Linked DNA regions of Homo sapiens: region 1 is linked to region 2. Evidence: fine-mapped expression QTL. A gene starts in region 2. The other region holds a variant in brackets. All regions are shown on one strand. Distances are between the middles of the regions.

Region 1 (12,124 bases), 31 kb before region 2:
GTGGCAAGTTTTATTTATCCTGTCAGGATCTATAACATCCCAAATAGTAGCAACATGGATTTTTAAATAGTTCTTTTTGAATGGGAACAACGAAACTCAGTGAAAAACTCATTACATTTTCTTCAGCATTATGCTATGAAAATTGAATACAGCAGATAAAAATTCTCTAGAAAATTAATTGTTTTTATTACAGGGGATCAACTGGTCATATCACATCTAGATAACTTTTTATAAAGCGTAATGGCATAGGAACTCTCCAACTAATTACATGCTGTCGTTCCAATTCTAAAATTCTAACTCACTTGAAACAACTAACTCTACTGCCTGTTAATACAAAGGGAGCTACTCTGCAGCAACTTCCTTTACAAAGACAACCCTAGAGGATTAAAATGTTCTCCAAACCACAATTTCAATTAGGAGCCTGAAAACTCATTCTTGCTTACCTCTACTCCTGAAAAATAGTCATTTTAAAAGGTCTCTAAAGATTATTTCATATGATCACTCTACCTTTCATTAACAGCATTCTAATAACGGTGCTACTAAATCCATATCCAAAAAACTGCTGAATAAAAATTCAACTTGCTTGTCTGTGATTAGTTTGCTAGTGAGTATCCCTTGTCAACCAACCAGCAGTTTCACTCAAATATTCAGAAACATTGATGAGCCAACAGCAACATAAAAAGGGACACTAAAAGAAATCTTAGTGCTAGAGAGCTCAAGCAAATAACACTTTTTGTCAACTTGTGAAGTCACTAAAGTTATCTGGATATATTTCCCATGAAAATCAAAGGTCGGCCATAATCCTTAATAAACACCTGCATTTTTATATAAAAAGATGATTACCGTTCACATGCAGGCTGTGTGGGGTTCTTAAGTAGGGAGCATGAGTGTTGAGGTTATTAGTATACCAGTCACATTTTCAGGCCTTGATACTATTGTCCTGGTTGGTCTCTAAACATCTGTACTACTTTTTGAATGTTTGCGTTTCTAACATAAAAACTTTTTAAAATTAAGAAAATAACTTTATTTAGAAGTTTATTTTCTTCTTTCTTGGGAAAACTGGGTATTTTGGGAACTAAAATGAGAAAAAGACTTGTCATTGTGTGCCCTTCTATGAGTACAAATGCTGCTTGTTCATAAAAAAAAACTGTAAAAAAGTTTCTTTCTAAATCTATTTCTAGGTTTCTATTACTGAACTTAAAAAGGGGGATTTCTAGAGCTACCCAAATGATCTTAGTAAGATATGTATGTAACAAAAATCCTTCAGTCTTTTTTCTTTTTCTCTTTTTTTTTTTTTTTTTTTTTTTGAGACGGAGTTTCATTCTTGTTGCCCAGGCTAGAGTGCAATGGCGCGATCTCAGCTCACCCCAAACTCCACCTCCCAGGTTCAAGGGATTCTCCTGCCTCAGCCTCCCAAGTAGCTGGAATTACAGGCATGCACCACCACACCCAGCTAATTTTGTATTTTCAGTAGAGACAGGGTTTCTCCATATTGGTCAGGCTGGTCTTGAACTCCCAACCTCAGGTGATCCACCCACCTCGGCCTCCCAAAGTGCTGGGATTACAGGCATGAGCCACCGCACCTGGCATTTTTTTTTTTTTTTTTTTTTTTGAGACAGAGTCACTCTGTCACCCAAGCTGGAGTACACTGATGCGATCGTGGCTCACCGCAGCCTCAACCTCCCGGGCTCGGGGGATCCTCCCTCCTCAGCCTCCCAAGTAACTGGGACTACAGGCACACACTACCACGTCTGGCTCACTTTTGTATTTTGTACCAAAAATACAAAATTTGAGCCAGGCGTGGTGGTGCATGCCCGCATGTAGGGTTTTGCCATGTTGCCCAGGCTGGTCTCGAACTCCTGCGCTCAAGTGATCCTCCAACCTTGGCCTCCCAAAGTGCTGGGGTTACAGGCATGAGCCACCATGCATTGCTGTCCTTCAGTTTTAGAAAAACAAATAAATCCCTTACGGAGGAAGACTTCAGCATATACTACAAATTTGTAAGCCATAAACAACAGAATGAATTTCATATTCATTAAAATTTAAAAAGCCTAATCTTTATCAAGACCTATTAAAGTAAGACAGAATCAAGGGACTAATAAAATGAAATTTTAAATGTCATTTATAAAGCCTACTAAAACAGTAGTCACATAACTGATAAACAACCATTTCGGTATAACATAAAGAGTTTCAGTGGCTCTCGAATTACTCTAAGAGACCCTGTTCATTTTTTCAGGTAATAAATGTTAAAACAATGATATACAGGCAGTGTTATTCTGGTGGTTATAACGGACCCTGGAGACAGTCACACTAGGTAACAACTCTGACGTTACCTCTTGCCTATCAGTGTGCCCTTCTTACACATTCCTTAACTTTGTAATGCCTTACTTTGCCCAAATATAAAATGGAGATAACCACAGTCTCTACCTCACAGAGCTGTTTAAAAGTAAAATGAATTAAAACACATACAGCATTTTGAACAGTGCTTGGTACAGGGAAAGCATTCAATGTTTGCTACCATCACCCACGGTCCATGAAACGTGACATTACCTGTTCCTTCCACTGAATACCATTACCTGTTCCTTCCACTGAATACAACTAAAACCCTGGACAGAATGCATGCCCCAGGCTGGGCGCGTGGCTCACACGTGTAATCCCAGTACTTTGGGAGGCCAAGGTGGGAAGATTACTTGAGGTCATAATTTCAAGACCAGCCTGGCCAACATAGTGAAACCCTACCTCTACTAAAAATACAGAAATGAGCCGGGAGTGGTGGCAAAGTGGTGAGCACCTGTGATCCTAGCTACTTTGGAGGCTGAGGCAGGACAATCATTTGAACCCAGGAGGCGGAGGCTGCAGTGAGCTGAGATCGCTCCATTGCACTCCAGCCTGGGCAACAGAGCAAGATTCCATCTCAAAATACATTAAAAAAAAAAACCTATCTGAGGACTCTGAAAAGTAAATGGTAGCAGATAGATTTGAGAAGGGAACTAGAACTTGAAGCACAATCTATCTGGTGCTCTTTCTTACTTTTGCTTGTTTTCTCCCAATCTTCCAGTCTGGATACAAAGGCAGCCCAATTTCTAGAAATGTATACCAGCCATGAAGAGATAAAGCTCCAAGAGGAGATTTCTCTTTCTGGTATAAGGTATGTGTGTGTATATGGGGGGCGATAAGGTTGGGAGTGTGAGGAATACAGAGTGGGAGAAATCCATTATTTCCACCCTCTCTCTTGCCATTGCAACCAGACAAAACCAAGCCTGGAAGCTGTGCACACTTAAGGCAGCTATGGACCAGCTGTACTTACGGAGAAGAAAATCCTCTCTGACCAGAAAACTGTGGTCTAACTTAAGTGCTTTGGGGAGGGGAGGGAGTAGAGTGGTATGGAGAAAGAACCTGTGTTGCTTTGGGGGTTTTTTTGTTTTGTTTGTTTTTTTGCGATTCCTTCTCCTACCTTGTGGCCCCTGAGACAGATTCAACTGAGGGAAAGGCAGGAGCCTCAAGCTTTCCAGGCTCAGGACCAGGAAGTGGGAGATGGGAGACTAAGACAGTATCAAGGAAACTCAGAAGGGAACGAACTGGAGTAATACATCTGATAAAGTTGTGTATGAACTCCTGGGCTCACCCCCAAGCTGTGACATATGGATCTGATCCCAACAGCACAAAGGCTTTGAGAACTAAACTATAAGGTAGACCACCACCCAAGTGCCTGGTTGACCCCTGTGTGGCACATAGCCAGAAATGACCCAAATAGCACCAGCAAGGCTTTGAAAACTAACATCATATTAGAACCAAAGCCCATAGAAGGTGGGTTGGATCTTGTGGCCTAAACTGAGTTAACTGTCTGCTATAACAAAACAAAATAACAAATCAATATTCTCCACAGGATTTAAACAAAACCTAGAATGTCGCAGTACTCGAAGTATCCAAAACAACTGAAAAATGAAGAAGAATAAAAGAAGAATCCAAAAGTATCCAAAATAACTGAACATATGAAGAATCATGGCTGGGCACAGTGACTGGCTCATGTCCGTAATCCTAGCATTTTGGGAGGCTGGGGGCGGGGAGGCAGGGACAGGGATCACTTGAGGTCAGGATTTCAAGACCAGCCTGGCCAACATGGTGAAATCCCATCTCTACTAAAAACACAAAAATTAGCTGGGTGTGGTGGCGCATGCCTGAAATCCCATTTGAGGCCGGGCATGGTGGCTCAGGCCTATAATACCAGCACTTTGGGAGGCCAAGGCGGGTGGATCACTTGAGGTCAGGAGTTGGAGACCAGCATGGCCAACATGGCAAAACCCCATCTCTACTGAAAATACAAAAATTCACTGGGCATGGTGGTGTGTGCCTGTAATCCCAGCTACTTGGAGGCTGAGGCAAGAGTATCGCTTGAACTTGGGAGGCAGAGGTTGCAGTGAGACAGGATCGTGCCACTGCACTCCAACCTGGGTGACAATGTGAGACTCCGTCTCAAAAAACAAAACCAAACAAACGAACAACTGAAAAAAAAAAAAAGGCAGTAAACTCTGGGGAAGGGGGAGAGTCTGATTTCCAGGGTTACAACATTATTAGATTCAAATTTCCAGTTTTCAACAAAAAAAAATCACAAAGCATAAAAGAGACAGGGAAGTATGGTCCATTCAAAGGAAAAAAAATTAACCAACAGAAACTGACCCTGAGGAAGACCAGTAAACAATTATCTTAGGCCAAGTGCGGGGGCTGACGCCTATAATCCCAGCACTTTGGGAGGCTGAGGCAGGCAGATCACTTGAGGTCAGCAGTTTGAGACCAGCCTGGCTAACATAGTGTAACGCCATCTCTAACAAAAATACAAAAATTAGATGGGCATGGTGGTGCGCACCTGTAGTCTTGGCTACTAGGGGTGCTGAGGCTCAAGAATCACTTGAACCTAGGAGGCGGAGGTTGCCGTGAGCTGAGATCGCGCCACTGCACTCCAGCCTAGGTGACAGAGCAAGACCCTGTCTCAAAAACAAAAACAACACACACACACACACAAAAATTATCTTAAAGGTACTCAAAGAACAACAACAACAAAAAAAAAACACTGAGAAAAATGCAAGAAAACTATGTACGAACAAAATAGAAATACCAATAAAGAGGTAGAAAACCGAAAAAGATGCCAAAAAGAAAGTGTTCAGAGTTGAAAAGTACAATAAAGCAAATGCAAAATTTACTAGAGGAACACGAAGGCTGATTTGACCAGGCGGGGGTGGGGGG[GC/C]ACGGGGAATCAACAAACCTGAGGATAGGACAAATGGAATTAATTATTCAGTCTGAGTCAGAGAAAGAAAAAAAAAATGAAGAAAAGTGAACAGAGCCCAGGGGACCTATGGGACACCATCAAGAAAGCCAACATGCACACTGTGGAAGTCCTAAAAGAAGACAGATAATAGGAGGCAGAGACATAATTTGAAGAAATAATGACCCAAAACTCCCCAAATTTGGTGAAAGACATGAACATAAACATCCAAGAAGCTCATCAAACTCCAAGTAGGATGAACTTAAAGAGATCTATACCAAGACAAATTATAAACATGCTATTAAAAGACAAAGACAGATATAATCTTGAAAGCAGCAAGAGGCAACTCATCAAATATAAATAATCAATAGTAGCAGCAGATTTATCAGAAACTTCAGAATTCAGAAGGCAATGGGCTAATATATTCAAAGTGCTAAATGAAAAAACAAAAACTGTTAACCGAGAATCCTATTTTCAGCTAAAACGTCCTTCAGAAGTTGGAGAAAAATTAAAACATTCCCAGATAAACAAAAGCTGAGGAAATTACTACTAGACCTGACCTGTAAGATAAAATAAAGGGAATTCTGCAGGTTGAAATGAAAGGATAGTAACTTGGGCCAAGCCCAGGAGCTCAGGCCTGTAATCCCAGCACTTTGGGAGGCTGAAGTGGGAGGATCACTTGAGGTCAGGAGTTCGAGACCAGCCTGGCCAACATAGTGAAAACACAAGTCTACTTTAAAAACAAACAAACAAACAAAAACAACCACAAAAATCCACCGGGCATGGTGGCATGCCCCTGTAATCCCAGCTACTCAGAAGGCTGAGACAGGAGAATCACATGAACCCCGGAGGCAGAGGTTGCAGTGAGCCAAGATCGTGCCACTGCACTCCAGCCCGGGCAACAGAGCAAGACTAATCATAGACAGAATGTAGAATAGTGGTTGCTAGGGTGGTGCTGGGGTGAATGAGGAGTTACTGTTTAATGGGTACAGAGTTTCAGTTCTACAAGATAAAAAGAGTTCCTGGAGATGGATAGCAGTAATGGTTGCATTCAATATGAAGGTACTTAACATCACTGAACACTTAAAAATCTTGAAGACACAACCTGGCCAACATAGTGAAGCCCCATCTCTACAAAAAAACAAAAATTAGCTGGGCATGGTAGTGGATGCCTATAGTCCCAGCTACTCGGGAGGCTGAGGCATGAGAATCACTTGAACCTGGAAGGCAGAGGTTGCACTGAGCCAAGATCGTACCAGTGCACTCCACCCTCGGGCAACACAGCGAGACCCTGTCTCAAAAAAAAAAAAAAGTTATTTTACCACAATAAAATTTTTTTTTAAAAAATGAACAAAACTGTGAAATGAACAGGATCTGTGGGACAATATAAAAAGGACTAACAGTCATGTCAAAGTCCTGGAATAAGAGAGAGAGTAATTCAGGAAAAAATACTTGAAAAAAATGACTGAAAATTTCCAAAATTTCCAAAGACAAAATTACAGTCAAGAAGTACAACAAACACTAAGCAGGGTAAGCAGAAAGAAATCCACATCCAGATATATCACAATTAAACTGCTATAACCAAAGACAAGAAAATATCTTAAAAGCAGCCAAAGAGAAATGATGCATGACATTAGAGAATAACAATTGAAATTACTACAAATTTCCCATCAGAAACAATCAAAGCATCTTCCGAAGTGCTGGAGGGGGAAAAAAAAAAAGACTATCAGTCTGAAATTCTATATTCAGCAAAAATATCTTTTAGGAATTAAGGTCATAAAGACATTCTCAGATGCAGGAAAACTAAACTAAACTAAAATCTGTAGCCAGCAGACGTGCTCTAAAAGAAATGTTAAAGGAAGTTCTCCAGGCATAAGAGAAACTACCAGAGGGAAAGGTGGGACTTCAAAAATGAAGAGAAATCAAAAGAAATGATAAATACCTGGGTAAATATAATAAACTCTTCTCCCCTTAAATACTTTAAAATGTTTGATGGCTGAAAGGAAAAAATTTTTTTTTCAAAGAATAGGTAAAATTCGACATTGGTGTCGTTTTCCATTTAGGTAGGTGTACGTATTAGTCCATTTTCACGCTACTGATAAACACATATCCAAGAGTGGGCAATTTACAAAAGAAAGAGGTTTAATGGATTTAACAGTTCCATGTGGCTGGGGAAGCCTCACAATCACGGTGGAAGGCAAGCAGGAGCAAGTCACTCTTACATGGATGGCAGCAGGCAAAGAGAGAGCTTGTGTAGAGAAACTCCCTTGTTTAAAACCATCAGATCTCATAAGATTAATTCACTATCAGGAAAACAGCGTGGGAAAGATCTGCCCCATAATTTAATCACCTCCCACCAGGTTCCTCCCATGACACATGGGAATTGTGGGACTTCAAAGAGGAGATTTGGGTGGGGACACTGCCAAGTCCTATCAGTATATTACCGATAATGACTACAATATAAAGGGGGGAAGGTAAAGGGGCCTCTACGTTGCTAAGGTTTCTACATTCTACATTAAGTGATATACATTAATTCTAAGTGGACTGGGAAATGCATACTTGTAAACTCTAGAAGAACCACTGCAAGGAACAGTCAAAACCCCAATAGAGAAATTAAAATTAATATAAAAACACTCCGCTGAAATCAGCAAAGGTAAAATAAGAACAAAACCAAAGGCACTGAACAGAAAACAAATAATTAAATGATTATTTGAACTAAATACTATGTTTAAACTAAGTCTTAAATATCAATAATTACATTAAAAGGCAATGGTCTAAACACATCAATGAAAAGACAGAAACTGTCAAAATGTATTTTTTTAAAAAGACCCAACCATATGTTGTCTTCAATAAACCCAGATTTTGTCTAGGCACAGTGGCTCATGCCTGTAATTCCAGCACTTTCAGAGGCCTAGGAAGGAGGATCACTTGAGGCTAGCAGTTCGAGACCAGCCTGAGCAACCTAGCAAGACTCTATCTCTACAAAAAATTTAAAAATTAGCTAGGTGTGGCGGCACGCGCCCTTAGTCCCAAGCTACTCAAATGGCTGAGGTGGGAGGATTGTTTAAGTCCAGGAGTTGGAGGTGGCAGTGAGCCTTGATCACATCACTGAATTCCAGCCTGGCAACAGAGCAAGAAGAAAGAAAAGAGGAAAGAAGAGAAACCCACTTTAATATAATTTAGGGAGAGGTAAGTTAGAAGTAAAAAGATAGAAAGACAAACACCATGCAACCACTTATCACAGAAAGCTGAAATAATTATTTTAATATCAGAAGAAAAAGCCGACTTCAAAGCAAGAAAATATACCAAGGATAAAGAGGGACATTACATAATAAAAGGATGAATTCACCAAGAAGAAGGTATAACATCCTAAATGAGTATGCACCTAACAAAACTTCAAAACACATAAAGCAAAAATTGATAGAATTGAAATAAACCCACAATTATAATTAGAGATTTCAACATTCCTCTCATGTTAATTGATAGGGAGAAAACCAGCAAGGATGTAGAACTTACCACAACAACCAACTGGATCTACCTCACAGTTACAGAACATTTCATTAAAAAAGAATACACATTCTTTTCAAATGCACATGGGAACATTCACTCAACCATATTCTGAGCCACAAATCAAAGCTTTGCCTGGGCACAATGGCTCATGCCTACAGTCTCGATACTTTGGGAGGCCAAGGTGGGAGGATTCAAGACTGGCCTAAGTTACATGGCAAGACTCGGTCTCTACAAAAAAATTATAAAAATTAGCCAGACGTGGTCGTGTGAGCCTGTGGTCCCAGGTACTCAAGAGGCTGAGGCTGACGTGGGTGGACTGCTTGAGCCTGGGAGGTTGAGGGTGCAGCCAGCCGTGATCACACACCACTGCAGCCCAGCCTGGAGGAAGACAGCAAGATCCTATCTCCAAGGGGGGGGGTGGGGGGAGAAAAGCTTCACAAATGTAAAAGGATTCAAGTCATACAAAAATCATACAAAGTATGTTCTTTCACCATAATGGAATTAAACTAGAAATAATTAATATAAAGCTATCTGGAAACAACCAAATACTTGGCTATATAATCTATTGGTCACAGAAGGAAGCCTCAAGGGAAAATAAAAACATGTTGAACTAAATGAGAAACATGTCAGAATTTGTATAATGCAGCTAATCAGTGCTCAGAAGAAAATTTATAGACTCAAATGCTTATATATTTTAGAGACAGGGTCTTGCTCTGTCGCCCAGGCTGGAGGGCAGTGACATAATCATAGCTCACTGCAGCCTCAGACTCCTGAGTTCAAGCAATTCTTCTACCTCATCCTCCCAAGTAGCTGGGACTACAGGCACACTTCACTATGCCCAGCTTCAAATGCTTATATTAGAAAAGAAGAAATGTCTCAAATTAACAATCTAAGCCCCCCATTTAAGAAATTAGAAAAAGAGCAAAATAAATCCAAAACAAGCAGAGGGCAATGGTAAGAGCAGTAAATAATACTGAACACAGAAAAACTTTGAAGCAAATCAATGAAACCAAAAGATCCTGATTCTCTAAAAAGATAATTAAAATTGATAAACAAAGGAAAATAAATAAAAATCACCAATATCAGTAAGGACATCACTACAGACTCCACCGACATTAAAAAAGATAAATAAGAGAATACTATAAACACGCTATGCTCATAAATTCAACAACTTTGATGAAATGAACCTATTTCTTGAAAATCACAAACTACCAAACACACTGGAAGAAAAAACGGCCCTCTCTCTACTGAAGAAATTGAATCACTAACTTCAAAGCTTCTTAAAAAGAAATCCCGGGACTAGAATTATTTTCCTGCTGAATTCTACCAACTATTTTATTTTATTTTATTTTATTTTGAGACAGAGTCTCACTCTATCACCCATGGTGGAGTGCAGTGGAGCAATCCTGGCTCACTGCAAGCTTCCCCTCCCGGGTTCAAGTGATTCTCCTGCCTCAGCCTCCTGAGTAGCTGGGATTACAGGCATGTGCCACCACGCCCAGCTAAGTTTTGTATTTTTAGTAGAGACAGGGTTTCACCATGTTGGCCAGGCTGGTCTTGAACTCCTGACCTCAAGTGATCTGCCCACCTTGGCCTACCAAAGTGCTGGGATTACAGATGTGAGCCACCATGCCTGGCTCCAAACTTTATTTATTTATTTATTTATTTATTTATTTTGACATGGATTCTCGCTCTGTCACCAAGGCTGGAGTGCAGTGGCAAGATCTCGGCTCACTGCAACCTCTGCCTCCTGGGTTCAAGCAATTCTCCTACCTCAGCCTCCTGAGTAGCTGGGATTACAGGCGTGTGCCACCACGCCTGGCTAATTTTTGTATTTTTAGTAGAGATGGGGTTTCACCATGTTAGTCAGGCTGGTCTTGAACTCTCAACCTCAGGTGATCCCCCTGCCTCAGCCTCCCGAAGTGCTGGGATTACAAGCGTAAGCCACCGTGCCCAGCCCTAATTCTACCAAACATTAAAGAATAACACGAATTCTACATAATCTCCAAAAACAGAAGAGGCACGAACACTTCCAAACTCATTTTATGAGCCCTGCATTACCCTCATAACAAAAAGTAGCTCACAATATTCAAAAGGACTGACACACTGTCCTAAAACAAGTACAATGATATAAGATACTTAACAGCAAGCAAGAGGGATATATCACTGCAGCTAGAATATTCATGCCAATCCACAGCAAAGTTCTACAAACTAAAGGATTTGTGCAATTGGGGTCAAGACCTTGACTAAAACATCTATCATGTGCTGAATGGTCTAAATTGTCAAGTTTGTCCAACCAAATGTGGTAGGGATTAGGGGTGTGAGAAAACATTTTAAATGGTCCATTTTCAAGTCATAATAAACCTAAGGACTGGCAGCCAGCCTGCGGATGTAACAAACTGCACAGCTCATGCACCTAGAAGGTCATGATAAGTGAACAGACTGTAGAAGAGGGGTCAGCCCATAAAAGGAAAGAAAGTTTCGTTATTGGGAAATCGAAACTTAAGTGGGGAAGGGGACGAGGATATAACCTTCTAAGGGTGATAATAAAACTTACACATCTGGGAAGATTGTAACTCCACAGTACTCAACCAATGAAGAACTGGGGGAGGGACTTGTGTGCTAGGAGATAAATTGCCTGTCGTAACTGCCCCAGGTGTGCCTGCCTACCACACACGGGATGGTGTCTCCAAGTCCATTTTTTGGGTTTGCATGGGTGAATGTGTGTTTCTCACAAACCTGGGGGCCCAACCAGGATCTCTGTGCCTGCATGGAGTGGAACTCCGGTCAAGGGGGAGACACATCCCATCAATTTAGGTGGCCTGCTCTGTCTGGGTATTCCAGCACCCGGCAGAGGCCATAGACAAACCCAAGACTGTTATTCCAGAGGCAGCAGAGACAACACAGGGAGAAAAGCACACACTGCAGCAACCAGGCAACCTTGTGCAGGAGCCCAGGTAGGAAAATTAGACTGTAAGTACTGCCTTAGTGGTTGGGCATTTTCAGAGGTCAAGTGTGTGCAACTGAGATGTATCTTAGATATGAAGCAAGTGCGGAGTCCCAATCCACGGTTCCGTTCTCCTGCGACGCAAACAGCCAGAGACGGACAAACCGATGCTCAGGGTGTGCAAGAAACCTCTAGTAGCGCGGGTCGAGTACACAGGGAAGAAAGCTCAGACATAGAGGCTGATCAAAAATGGGAAACAGAAATCCTAAACCTAGGGTACAAAGCAAAGAGGGAGCCAAAGAGACTCCCTCTGACATTCCCCCAGATAGTCCTTTGGGGAGAATGCTGAAGGTTTGAAGGGACAACCCTTGAACCAGGCAAAAGGAAAAGCAAAAGATAAGGCATCG
Region 2 (12,124 bases):
CATGATCATGCCACTACACTCCAGCATGGGCAACAGAGCAAGAACTTGTCTCAGAAAGAATTATGTTCTCTATAGTTATCAGTCTTGGCAGTTGCTGAAATATAAAAAGGAACTTCTTAAAATATATTAAACACAAACAGAGCAGTATCTAATAGGATAATTTTAAAATACCGTTCTACTTCATCAACAAAACTATGTTTGTCCTAAAAAATACCAGAGGACAAAGTGCTTAACCAAAGTCCAACTTTATATATGAAATCTGCTCAGTATTAGCTGGGCGAGGTGGCAAACACCTGTAATCCCAGCTACTTGGGAAGCTGAGGCAGGAGAATTGCTTGAACCCGAGAGGTGGAGGTTGCAGTGTGCCAAGATCACACCACTGCACTCCAGCCTGGGCAACAAGAGCGAGACTCTATCTGGAAAAACAAAAAACAAAAAACAAAAACTGTTCAGACCTTCTCAGTGGGAGTGTACACTTTCTGGAAAGCAATTTGGCCATATGACATAAAATGCGTTTTTGACCCAGAAATACCAACTCTGGAACACATCCTCAGGAAGTGCAGATCAAATTGAGTACAATAGGAAAACATAGGAAAAATCCCTCAAATGTCCAATAAGGGAATTACCAAATATGTTATGGCATATCCACAAGACATACCACAATGGAATAAACTATGAAGACATGAAAAATGTTTTAGATAGAAAAATGCATACACTGTAACAATTAAACCAGAATATAAAGCATTATAAGTAATATTATCTCAGAACTTTTTAAAAGACATCTGGATATACACATTAAGAAGACAAAAACGAAATGCTTTTAATGTTGACAGTAGTTAATCTTGGATGGTAGAAATAAGTGGCTTCTTCTACCTTATACTATTCTTTTCACATCTCCGCTAATGAGCCTGTATTGTTTTGATAACACAAAAAAAATTTCAGAAAAAAAATTTTTTAATAATATTTGAGTAACTTTTTTATAGGTTCAATGTATTTTGTATCCATGTTCAGTAACCATCCACTTACTATATCTTTGAAAAACTTAAAAAATCCATTAACTTGTGAAATATCTTCTAAGACAGGCATTTAGAATGCATTATTGCACTCTAACAGCTTCTTAATGAGAACATTTGGCTTTCAAGATTCTTGGTCTGCAAGGAAAAACAAATAATTGGAGCGGGGATGAAGGGTAGAAAACTTTATGGAAGGTAGAGATGTTCCTTTGTAAGATGCCTCATTTTCCACAACTCAGAATCTATACTTGAAGACCACCTTATTGGAAGACTAGCTTCTCCAGTCAAGTTTCAGATGTGTAAAACATCTAGACTTGAACCACAGCCCATTTTCTTTAAAAATGGTTTTTGCCATTCTTACCTCCAAAGAAATTAAATAATAAGCAATACAATCAAATACAAAATTATTTCTGCTTTTTTTTTTTTTTTTTTTTTGAGACGGATTTTCACTCTGTTGCCCAGGCTGGAGTGCAGTCGCTCAATTTCGGCTCAACGCAACCTCCGCCTCCCAGGTTCAAGCAATTCTCCTGCCTCAGCCTCCTGAGTAACGCCAGGCTAATTTTTGTATTTTTAGTACAGATGGGGTTTCATCATGTTGGTCAGGCTGGTCTCAAACTCCTGACCTCATGATCCGGCCGCCTTGGCCTCCCAAAGTGCTGGGATTACAGGCGTAAGCCATTGCGCCTGGCCCTCCGCTTTTTTTTTTTTTTTTTTTTTTTTTTTTTGAGACGGAGTCTCGCTCTGTTGCCCAGGCTGGAGTGCAGTGGCGCAATCTTGGCTCACTGCAAGCTCTGCCTCCAAGGTTCACGCCATTCTCCTACCTCAGCCTCCCGAGTAGCTGGGACTACAGGTGCCCACCACCACACCCAGCTAATTATTTGTATTTTTAGTAGAGACGGGGTTTCACCGCATTAGCCAGGATGGTCTTGATCTCCCTCTGCTTTTTAAAGATACTAAAAGTAGTTCAACAACTCAGTAATGCCTGTTAGCCAGTTATTTAAATATCCAAACATAATATTCCACTCTTACTTTCCACAGATTATCATTCCTTCTCCTAATTCATGTTCATAGATAAATATATAGTCCTCAAATGTTAGTCAGTATGCTTAAGATGCCTGGATTTAAAATGCTCTCTCTAGAGAGACACACAGTACTCATTACGTCTGTATTTCTTATTCTATAAAGCAAACATTTCATATACGATACAAAAACTGCAGCTGATTTTTTAAATTAAATTAAATACAAAAAAGATGTTTAATGGATTAAGATCTCCCAATCCACAGTTCTATGGTTCTAACCTCAGCTGGATCTAAAGAGGTGGGAAAAGTAGAAAGTACACTGGCCCCAGATTCTAATTCTATCTCTGCTACGAATTAGCTTTGTTGCCTTGGAATTCCACTTAACCTCACTGGATCTGCTAGCCACATCTAAAAAATGAGGGGAAAATTAGACTACTTAATCAAGGTTTCTACAAACTCTTTAAAAAATGATTCTAGGTTCATATTTCTACAGTCTTCCCAAATATCTTCTTTTCCTAATTCTCAGCAGTAATAAACTTTCCCTTGGATTAACCTTTCAGGTATCAACAATGTGCAAAAGTGTAGACAAATTTTTATACTTCCATTTAAAAAATACATAATGTCCATAAGATTTATCCTATATTATTTTGGCAAATCCTATTAGATATTTTTTAATAACTATAACATATCTAAAAGCCCCAGTTAAAAATAAAGATTACTCAATATACATTACACATATAGGCACATGACTTATTGTGCAATAACTGCCAGAACAGTTAGCAATGGAAAAAATACTTCATTCCTTGACACTAATCAGAAAAGACAAGACTAGGGTGTTTCTTTTTTATAATGTTCAAAACAAAAGAGAACACTACATATATCAAGTGTCTCTACATAAAACTGGATTAAATTAGGTATCATTTCAGTTTTAAAATCCTAAGGAAAGGCATTCTAAGTCTGAGCATTCTGTAACTAAGCTGCATTATCTTTTAGACTCAAACCAAACCCTACATATAATAGTAATTCAGTCTCATGAACCTTTTGAGTAAGTTAAATGACATCTATTAAATCTTCCTTAATGTTTAAGGCACATGTAGTGACATTTTAATGTTTACAAAATGTTGATTTTTACAAAAAGAAAATTGGCTTCAGCTGAAGCTTTTCATACCTGAGAAGTCGCTTCTTAAATGTGAATAAGTAAATGGTCACCTTTCTAGAGTGACACATAGTACTCAATACATCTGTATTTCTGATTCTATAAAGCAACTATTTTATATACAATACAAAAAGTGCAGCTGATTTTTTAAAAGGCTAAACTTACTATTTTGGACACATTGTTTCTACCTAAAAATCTCTAAAATCATCTTTAATCACTAACTTGGATTTTAATCACTACATCCTCAACATATTCTATAAGAATCAGGGGTTAGGTTAGAGCCTTGAGGTTAAAAAAAAAAAAAAGTATGAAATTCACTGAGGGGGTCCCTTTCAGCATCTTAAAAGCCACAGCCAATTACAGCCCAGATGTCTTTTTTCTTTTTTAAATTAATATTACTTTTAATTGACAAATCATAATTGTATACATTTATGGAGTACAATGAGATGTTCTGATACATGTTTACAGTGTGGAATGACTAATTCAAGCCAATTACACATCCATCACCTTATCTTTGTGACTTTTTTTTTCTTAACTGAAGCTACCCACACCATTACAATTTTAAAAAGAATAGTCTAATGATAACAGTGGGCTGGGCACAGTGGCTCACGCCTGTAATCCCAGCATTTTGGGAGACCAAGGCAGGCATATTACTTGAGACCAGGAGTTCGAGAACAGCCTGCCCAACATGGTGAAACCCCGTCTCTACTAAAAATACAAAAATTAGCTGGGCATGGTGGCAGTCGCCTGTAGTCCCAGCTACTCGGGAGGCTGAGGCACGAGAATAGCTTGAACCCAGGAGGCAGAGGTTGCAGTGAGCCAAGATCATGCCACTGCACTCCAGCCTGGGCAACACAGCGGGACTCCGTCTCAAAAAAAAAAAAAAGATAATGGTGGAGCCACTGGTTCACTTTGACTTCAACAGCTTTGCAGAAGTTTTGTTGTTGTTAAATATAATAATCTAATGGTGGGGGCGGGGCAGGGGGGAACACATGATGCGATTACTTTCCCCAATCCATAAATCCACTACTGCAGCCCACATCTGGATAGATACAGTGATTCAAAGTAGAAAATGATACCAGTTGAGTCCCTTCTCAGTATTTTTCAAGCCATCGTTCCTGCATTAAACAGGTACGCCCAATTACAAATAACAACAGTTACCATCTACCTATCCCCTTCTGTGGGCCAGTATGAGTGCTAGCCACTTAACATCTTTCATGTCATTTAATCCCTAGAGCAACTCTGTAAGAAACATATCATTACCTCCATTTAATAGATGGGAAAGTAAGGACTCAAAGAGGATGTAAGGCTGCTAAGCGGCAGAGCCAGATTTCAAATCCAGGGCTGTCTGACTTCAAAGGTCATGCTCATTAAGCTACACTGTCTACTGAAAACAGAAGCATAAAAATCACCAAGAAGTTTCTCAAAGATTTGCTCAACTTTTTAGAGTTCCCAAGCATAACAACTCAACTGCAACAAATACAACTGGCTGTATTAATACACCTATCCACATGAAACATTAATTCCATGTTGTCAAAGAGCAAGTTTTACAAGATGACTCCAATTCTCATCTCAAGGGGATATGAGAAAATTTACAGTTAACTGAGCTCAACTTCACTCAAGCTTATGCCTCATCTTTTCCATATTATATAAAAGCTCTAGCAGGCTTATAATCCCAGTATGCTGGGAGGCCAAGGCAGGAAGACTGCTTGAGGCCAGGAGCTCAAGACCAGCCCTGGCAACATAGCAAGAGCCCGTCTTTATAAAAAATAAAAATTAAAAATAAATAGCGAGCCATGGTGGTAGCACATGCCTGTAGTCCCAGCTACTTGGGAGGCTGAGACAGGGAAGATCACATAAGCCCAGGAGTTGGAGGCTGCAGTGAGCTACGACTGCACCACTGCACTCCAGTCTGGGTGAAAGCTCAAGACCCTGTCTCCAAAAAAGAAAAGAAAAAAATTCTAATATAAATATGTAACCCGAAGTTCATGTTTCCTCATTAATTTTAGTGGTATTAGGCCAGGAACGGTGGCTCATGCCTGTAATGCCAGCACTTTGGGAGGCCGAGGCAGGAGGCTCGCTTGAGCCCAGGAGTTCAAGGCTGGCCTGGCAACATAGGAAGATCTTGTCTCTACCAGAAAAAAAAAAAAAAAAAAAAAAAAAAAATTAGTGGTATTAGATACACATTCCACTCTTCTATTCCTGCGGAAAGATAGTCATTCCAAGCGCAAAAAATCATAATATTACAATAGGAGGCCAGGCGCGGTGGCTCACACCTGCAATCCCAGCATTTTAAGAGGCCGAGTCGGGCGGATCACATGAGGTCAGGAGTTTTGAGACTAGCCTGAGCAACAAAGCAAAACCCATCTCTACTAAAAGTAATTAGCCGGGCGTGGTGGAGGACGTCTGTAATCCCAGCTACGCAGGAGGTGGAGGCAGGAAAATCGCTTGAACCTGGGAGGTGGAGGTTGCAGTGAGCTGAGATCTCGCCACTGCACTCCAGCCTGGGGGACAAAGCGAGACTCCGTCTCAAGAAAAAAAATTAATAATAATACTACTAGAAAAGGAGCCGAACAACAAGCAGGTAAATCTTCCTTATATACATCATTCTTCAAAGGACTTTGGGGTTTCTGCTAATCTCTTTTTCTCCAAGACTTACTCATTCCTGTTGCTTTATTAGTGCAAGGACTAAGAATCACAAGTTACCTATTTTCTCAAACATGAAAGCTGTGTTTGAATCATCTTGTGTAACCTAACCAGTCGGACAGCTAATCTTCAGGATTTCAACAGTCATCGAAAAGGTGGAAGAACTGCTGCCATCTCTCTTCAGAACAGTTCTAAAACTCCCCTGGCGTGTACAAGCCACTACCAGCTAAAACTGAGTCACAACAACTCTTGGGCTCTAAATAAAGATCGAGGCGAAATCTTTCACTCCTATTTATTTCCCAACCAACCAAACAAGCAAAACGAAACAATCACCTTTCTACTCAATCATTGCTGAACAAACACCACATTCTATGTAAGTCCTCAGTGCAATTTTCCTTCCACCCATTCCCTAGGCCTGCTAAGCTATGTTCCTGCCCAGTACCTTCTTTTCTCTTCAAGTGAAAAACACCATTTAAAGACCAACTCCTCTTTCGCAGGGTAGTTAACTTTATGCTAACTGCAGATCCATCTTATCTAGTCGCTTAAGACAATTAACTCTTAGCTTAATAAATACTATGTATTGTGGGCTAGCTGGAGCTCAGCAATGAGCTTGGTCTCCGCGCCTGGGGGACGGGTGAAAACAAGTAACTGAATTAGATGGGACCAGCGGCCCACAGAATTCAGGAAGGCGCTCACACTGGTCTCCCGCTTTCACAATGGGTCTATTGGTCCAAAGTGGCAACTTAAGAGAGGCTCTTAATGCTTACGCTTTCTCGTACGGCTGACGGATTTGCCAAATCCCACCCTTTGGGAAAGTGACAGACTGGACTTAACTCTTTGGCTGCCCCTACTGGGCAAACCCAAGGGAAACCCCAATCCCCAAGCGCTTTAAAAATGTGACGAGTTCAATTTAACTCTTTCCGAGCCCCCGCGGCGTTGAGGACACAGCCCTTGGAAAATGTCTACACTGACTTAACCCTTCCGCTGCCGATCTCAGTGCTACTCCCCGCGCCGCCAACACGCGGGAAATTCCAAATGCTGGCCCTCGGGAGATGACAGGCCCAGCTTCGCACGCCCCCCGCCATCAGTCCCATCGCGCCGAGGGGGGCCCCAACTCAGGCCTTGGAGAAGCGCCGGGCCGGACTCCTGGCTGCGGAGCCCCGGGCGAGTGAGTGGGCGGGCGCTCACCGCGATGACATTGACGAAGGTGGTCTTGCCCGAGTACTGCAGCCCCACGAGCGTCAGCTCCATCTCTTCCTTCCAGAAGAGCGAACGGAACCAGTCCAGCAGGCGGGAGATGAGCGCCAGCATGATGGCGGCCGGGAGCGAGAACGGACGGGAGGACGGACGAGCGGCGGCGTCGACGACTTCCACACGAGCGGGCCTCCGCCCGGACCCTCCAACGGCTCCTTGGTGCCCCGGCGCGACACGGGCGGACACCGGCGGGCGGCAGCAGCCAGACCCAGGAAGCCGAGCGGATCATATGACTCGCCCTACCCCCCACGCCCGTCCCGGCGCCGCCGTCGGCACCCACGGCAAGAGCGGCGCGGCCAATCCGGCCAGGCCCGCCCGCCGCTGGCATCGCCACCTGGTGGGCATGCTCCGCAGCACAGCGTACCCTCGGGCCCCCTTGAGGCTTTCTCTACATTCATTCATTGTTGGTTCATTCGTCATTCATCCACTTATACATTCGTTAATTCATTCATTCATTTTTTGCTATAATTGTTCATTAACAATCTGCAGGAAGACTTCAAGACTCTGGAAGAGTTGGCGTGGAATAAAAATTCCTGTCCTACATTTTTGGTAGTAGCAAAAGATAGTGTTAACTTAAAAATGACACCGTTTATAAATTTAGAAAGGAGAGCATTATTTCTTAAGAAGGGGATTATAAGCTGTAGGCAGGACGTGCAGCCTCGGGCCAAAAAAAACAAAAGTAAGCACTTTGAGAGAGGGAAGGGTGCAACAAGAATTTATATTGAGGAGTTGGCCAAGTAAACATATTTAACTTATGGAAGGAGCTATTAATATGTATGAAGGTGGTCTTACACACATAGTGAACAAATCTGTATGTTGCATATGACCTATGTTCATTTGGGGTGGCGACTTAACATTTAAATGTATTATAATCAGGCAGGGCGCGGTGGCTCATGCCTGTAATCCCAGCACTTTGGGAGGCAAAGGTGGGCAGATCACCTGAGGTCAGGAGTTTGAGACCAGCCTGACCAACATGGTGAAGCCCCATCTCTACTAAAAATACAAAATTAGCCGAACGTGGTGGCATGCACCTGTAGCCTCAGCTGCTTGGGAAGCCGAGGTGGGAGAATTGTGTGAACCCAGGAGGCGAAGGTTGCAGTGAGCTGAGATCATGCCACTGCACTTCAGCCTGGGTGATAGAGTGAGACCCTCGTCTCAAAAAACAACAATTAAAAAATAAATAAAGTAAAAGTATTATAATCAGGCCCTCCACATCAGAAAGTGAATCAGGGACGGGAAAGGTATTGAAGTGCTTGGCCTCTGTAAAACCAGCCAGAACTGGGCTGGGCGCGGTGGCTCACAGCCTGTAATCCAAACACTTTGAGAGGCTGAGGCAGGTGGATCAGGAGGTCAGGAGTTTGAGACCAGCCTGGCCAACAAGGTGAAACCCCGTCTCTACTAAAGATACAAAAAATTAGCCCAGGCCGGGTGCAGTGGCTCATGCCTGTAATCCCAGCACTTTGGGAGGTCAAGGCGGGCAGATCACCTCAGGTTGGGAGTTCAAGACCAGCCCGACCAACATGGTGAAACCCCGTCTCTACTAAAAATACAAAAATTAGCGGGACATGGTGGCACGCGCCTGTAATCCCAGCTATGCTGGAGGCTGAGGCAGGAGAATCGCTTGACTCCGGGAGGCAGAGGTTGCAGTGACCGAGGTCATGCCACTGCACGCCAGCCTGGGTGACAGAGCGAGACTTCATCTCAAAAAAAAAAAAAAGAAAGAAAGAAAAGAAAAAGCCAGCCAGAACCAATGCATGGATGCATGGTTAGTTGTCTCTTAACAGGAGAAAGTTACAGAAATCAGTCTCTTGTCTAATCAAAGCCATAGTTAGGCTTGTGGAACAGGTCAGTTAGCCTGCATCTGGCAGAGAGTTGTAACTGTTTTAATTGTGTTTATCTCCAGGCCAGTGCTGGTTTAGCTGGTAGAGAAAAAGAGAAACCTTGCACTTAGTCATTTAACTCTTGCCTAGTATGGCCTTAGGTCCTGTTTATAATTTGGTATCTAATTGTCACAAAGAGTCTGTTCTGTCAGTCTTGTGATCTCTATTTTAACGTTAATGTTGGTCGTTTGTTGTTTCTTTCTTTTTTTTTTTTTTTTTTTTGAGACGGAGTCTCGCTCTGTCGCCCAGGCTGGAGTGCAGTGATGCGATCTCGGCTCACTGCAAGCTCCGCCTCCCGGGTTCACACCATTCTCCTGCCTCAGCCTCCCGAGTAGTTGGGACTACAGGCGTCCGCCACCACGCCCGGCTAATTTTTTGTATTTTTAGTAGAGACGGGGTTTCACCCTGCTAGCCAGGATGGTCTCGATCTCCTGACCTCGTGATCCGCTCGCCTACGGCCTCCCAAAGTGCTGGGATTACAGGCTTGAGCCACCGCGCCCGGCCGGTCGTTTGTTGTTTCTAAACGACATAAGGGAGGAGGTATAACCAGGTGTGACTGACTTCCCATCTTGTGGAGGGAAGGAACTCAGTTTTTAAGACTTTCCTAGGATAGGCCGGGCGCGGTGGCTCACGCCTGTAATCCCAGCACTTTGGGAGGCCGAGGTGGGCGGATCACAAGGTCAGGAGATCGAGACCATCCTGGCTAACACGGTGAAACCCCATCTGTACTAAAAATACATAAAATTAGCCGGGCACGGTGGCGGGCGCCTGTAGTCCCAGCTACTCGGGAGGCTGAGGCAGGAGAATGGCGGGAACCCGGGAGGCAGAGCTTGCAGTGAGCCGAGATGGCGCCACCGCACTCCAGCCTGGGCGACAGCGAGACTCCGTCTCAAGAAAAAAAAAAAAGATTTTCCTAGGATCTCTTTGTCCAGGAAGGATCTGTTTAGTCAGTTGAGGGGACTTAGTTTGTTTGTTTATTTGATTTTGAGACAGAGTCGAGCACAGTTGCCCAGGCTGGAGTGCAATGGCAGATCATAGCTCATTGCAGCCTTGAATTCTTGGGCTGAAGTGATCCTCCTGCTTCAGTCTCTCAAAGTATTGGGATTACAGGCGTGAGCCACCATGCCCACACCCAGCCCAGGAATTTTTTTTTTTTTTTTGAGACAAGTCTCGCTCTGTTGCCAGGCTGGAGTGCAGTGGTGCAATCTCGGCTCACCGCAACCTCTGCCTCCCGGGTTCAAGCAACTCTCCTCCCTCAGCCTCCCGAGTAGTTGGGACTACAGGCGAGCCACCAAGCCCAGCTAATTTTTGTATTTTTAGTAGAGATGGGGTTTCACCATGTTGGCCAGGATGGTCTCGATCTCTTGACCTCATTATCCACCCACCTTAGCCTCCCAAAGTACTGGGATTACAGGCGTGACCCACCGGGTCCAGCCCAGGATTTTATTTTTAGTTTACAATGGGAAGCAATTAGTGTCTATCAATAGGGAACTGATTAACCAGGATGTGTCCCCAAAAAGGAATACTATGCAGCTGTAAAAAAAAATACAAGAAGAAGAAAGTTATCTGTCAACTGATAAGGAATGATGATCAGGAAATATTTTCAAGAAACAAAAAAAAATCAAGGTTCATGGCTGTGTACGGTGGCTCATACCTGTAGTCCCAGGACTTTGGGGGGGGGGGGGGCAGATCACTTGAGGCCGGGAGTTCGAGACCAGCCTAACCAACATGGCAAAACCCCATCTCTACTAAAATTACAAAAATTAGCCAAGCGTGATGGTGCATGCCTGTAATCCCACCTACTCATGAGGCTGAGGCAGGAGAATCCCTTGAACCCAAGAAGCAGAGGTTGCAATGAGCTGAGATTGCACCACTGCATTCCAGCCTGGGTGACAGATTAAGACTGTCTCAAGGCTGGGCGAGGTGGCTCATGCCTGTAATCCCAGCACTTTGGGAGGCTGAGGCGGGTGGATCACGAGGACAGGAGATCGAGACCATCCTGGCTAACATGGTGAAAACCCATCTCTACTAAAAATACAAAAAATTAGCCGGGAGTGGTGGCGGACGCCTGTAGTCCCAGCTACTTGGGAGGCTGAGGCAGGAGAATGGCATGAACCCGAGAGGCAGAGCTTGCAGTGAGCTGGGATCATGCCACTGCACCCCAGCCTGGGCAACAGAGCAAGACTCCCTCTCCCAGAAAAAAAAGACTGTCTCAAAAAAACAAAAAAACCAGGGTTCAGACTGTGTACGTAATGATATTTGGAATGTAAGGTGAGAAAATAATAACACATATGCTTATACATATATATACATATATAAGCATATGCTTATACATATATATACATATATAAGCATATGCTTATACATATATATACATATATAAGCATATGCTTATACATATATATACATATATAAGCATATGTGTATGGTATCTGCATAAAGAAATACTGGGAAACTAATAAAAATGGTTTCCTATGGGGGTAGGAAAAACTGGATGTCCGGTGGCAGAAATGGAAATGAGACTTGTCTAGATAACTTTTAGACCACTTTGACTTTTCTCTTTTTCTTTTATTTATTTATTTATCCTATTTTATTTTACTGTTTTTTTTTTTTTTTTGGAGACAGAGTCTCATTCTGTTGCCCAGACTGGAGTGCAGTGGTACAATCTCAGCTCACTGCAACATCCACCTCCCAGGTTCAAGTGATTCTCTTGCCTCAGCCTCCCAGGTAGCTGGGATTACAGGCGTGTGCCACCACATCTGGCTAATTTTTTTGTATTTTTATTAGAGATGGGGTTTCACCATGTTGGCCAGTCTGGTCTCCAACTCCTGACCTCAAGTGATCCACCCACCTGGGCCTCCCAAAGTGCTGGGAATACAGGCGTGAGCCACTGTGCCCAGCCTATCTTAGTTATTCTACAACATACCCCTAGAGGCAAACTTTGACTTTTCAAACATGTAAATGGGTTGTCTGTTCAAAATACAATTTACTTTTTGTTTTTTTGAGATAGAATCTTGCTCTGTCGCCCAGGCTGGAGTGCAGTGGTGCGATCTCAGCTCACTGCAACCTCTGCCTCCCAGGTTCAAGTGATTCTCCTGCCTGAGCCCACTGAGTAGCTGGAAGTATAGGCACATGCCACCACACCCAGCTAATTTT

Evidence for each region.
Region 1: its variant is fine-mapped to the expression of ARL8B in thyroid (GTEx, PIP above 0.99).

What each region holds. Positions count from the first base shown.
Region 1 is chr3:5,148,786-5,160,909 of GRCh38, reverse strand. The region is part of intron 1 of ARL8B (ARF like GTPase 8B); the gene reads right to left. Among named protein-coding and RNA genes, the nearest start is that of ARL8B, 33 kb to the right of the region's middle. The variant GC/C (reference allele first, on the strand shown) is at 5,242.
Region 2 is chr3:5,117,487-5,129,610 of GRCh38, reverse strand. It overlaps ARL8B (ARF like GTPase 8B), which reads right to left and starts at 7,319. Exons shown (of 7, transcript NM_018184.3): 1 at 7,023-7,319. The coding sequence starts at 7,145. LOC124906212 (a long non-coding RNA gene) reads right to left here and starts at 6,552. Exons shown (of 2, transcript XR_007095800.1): 1 at 5,895-6,552; 2 at 796-1,151. RefSeq lists silencers at 3,573-3,867, 7,254-7,513.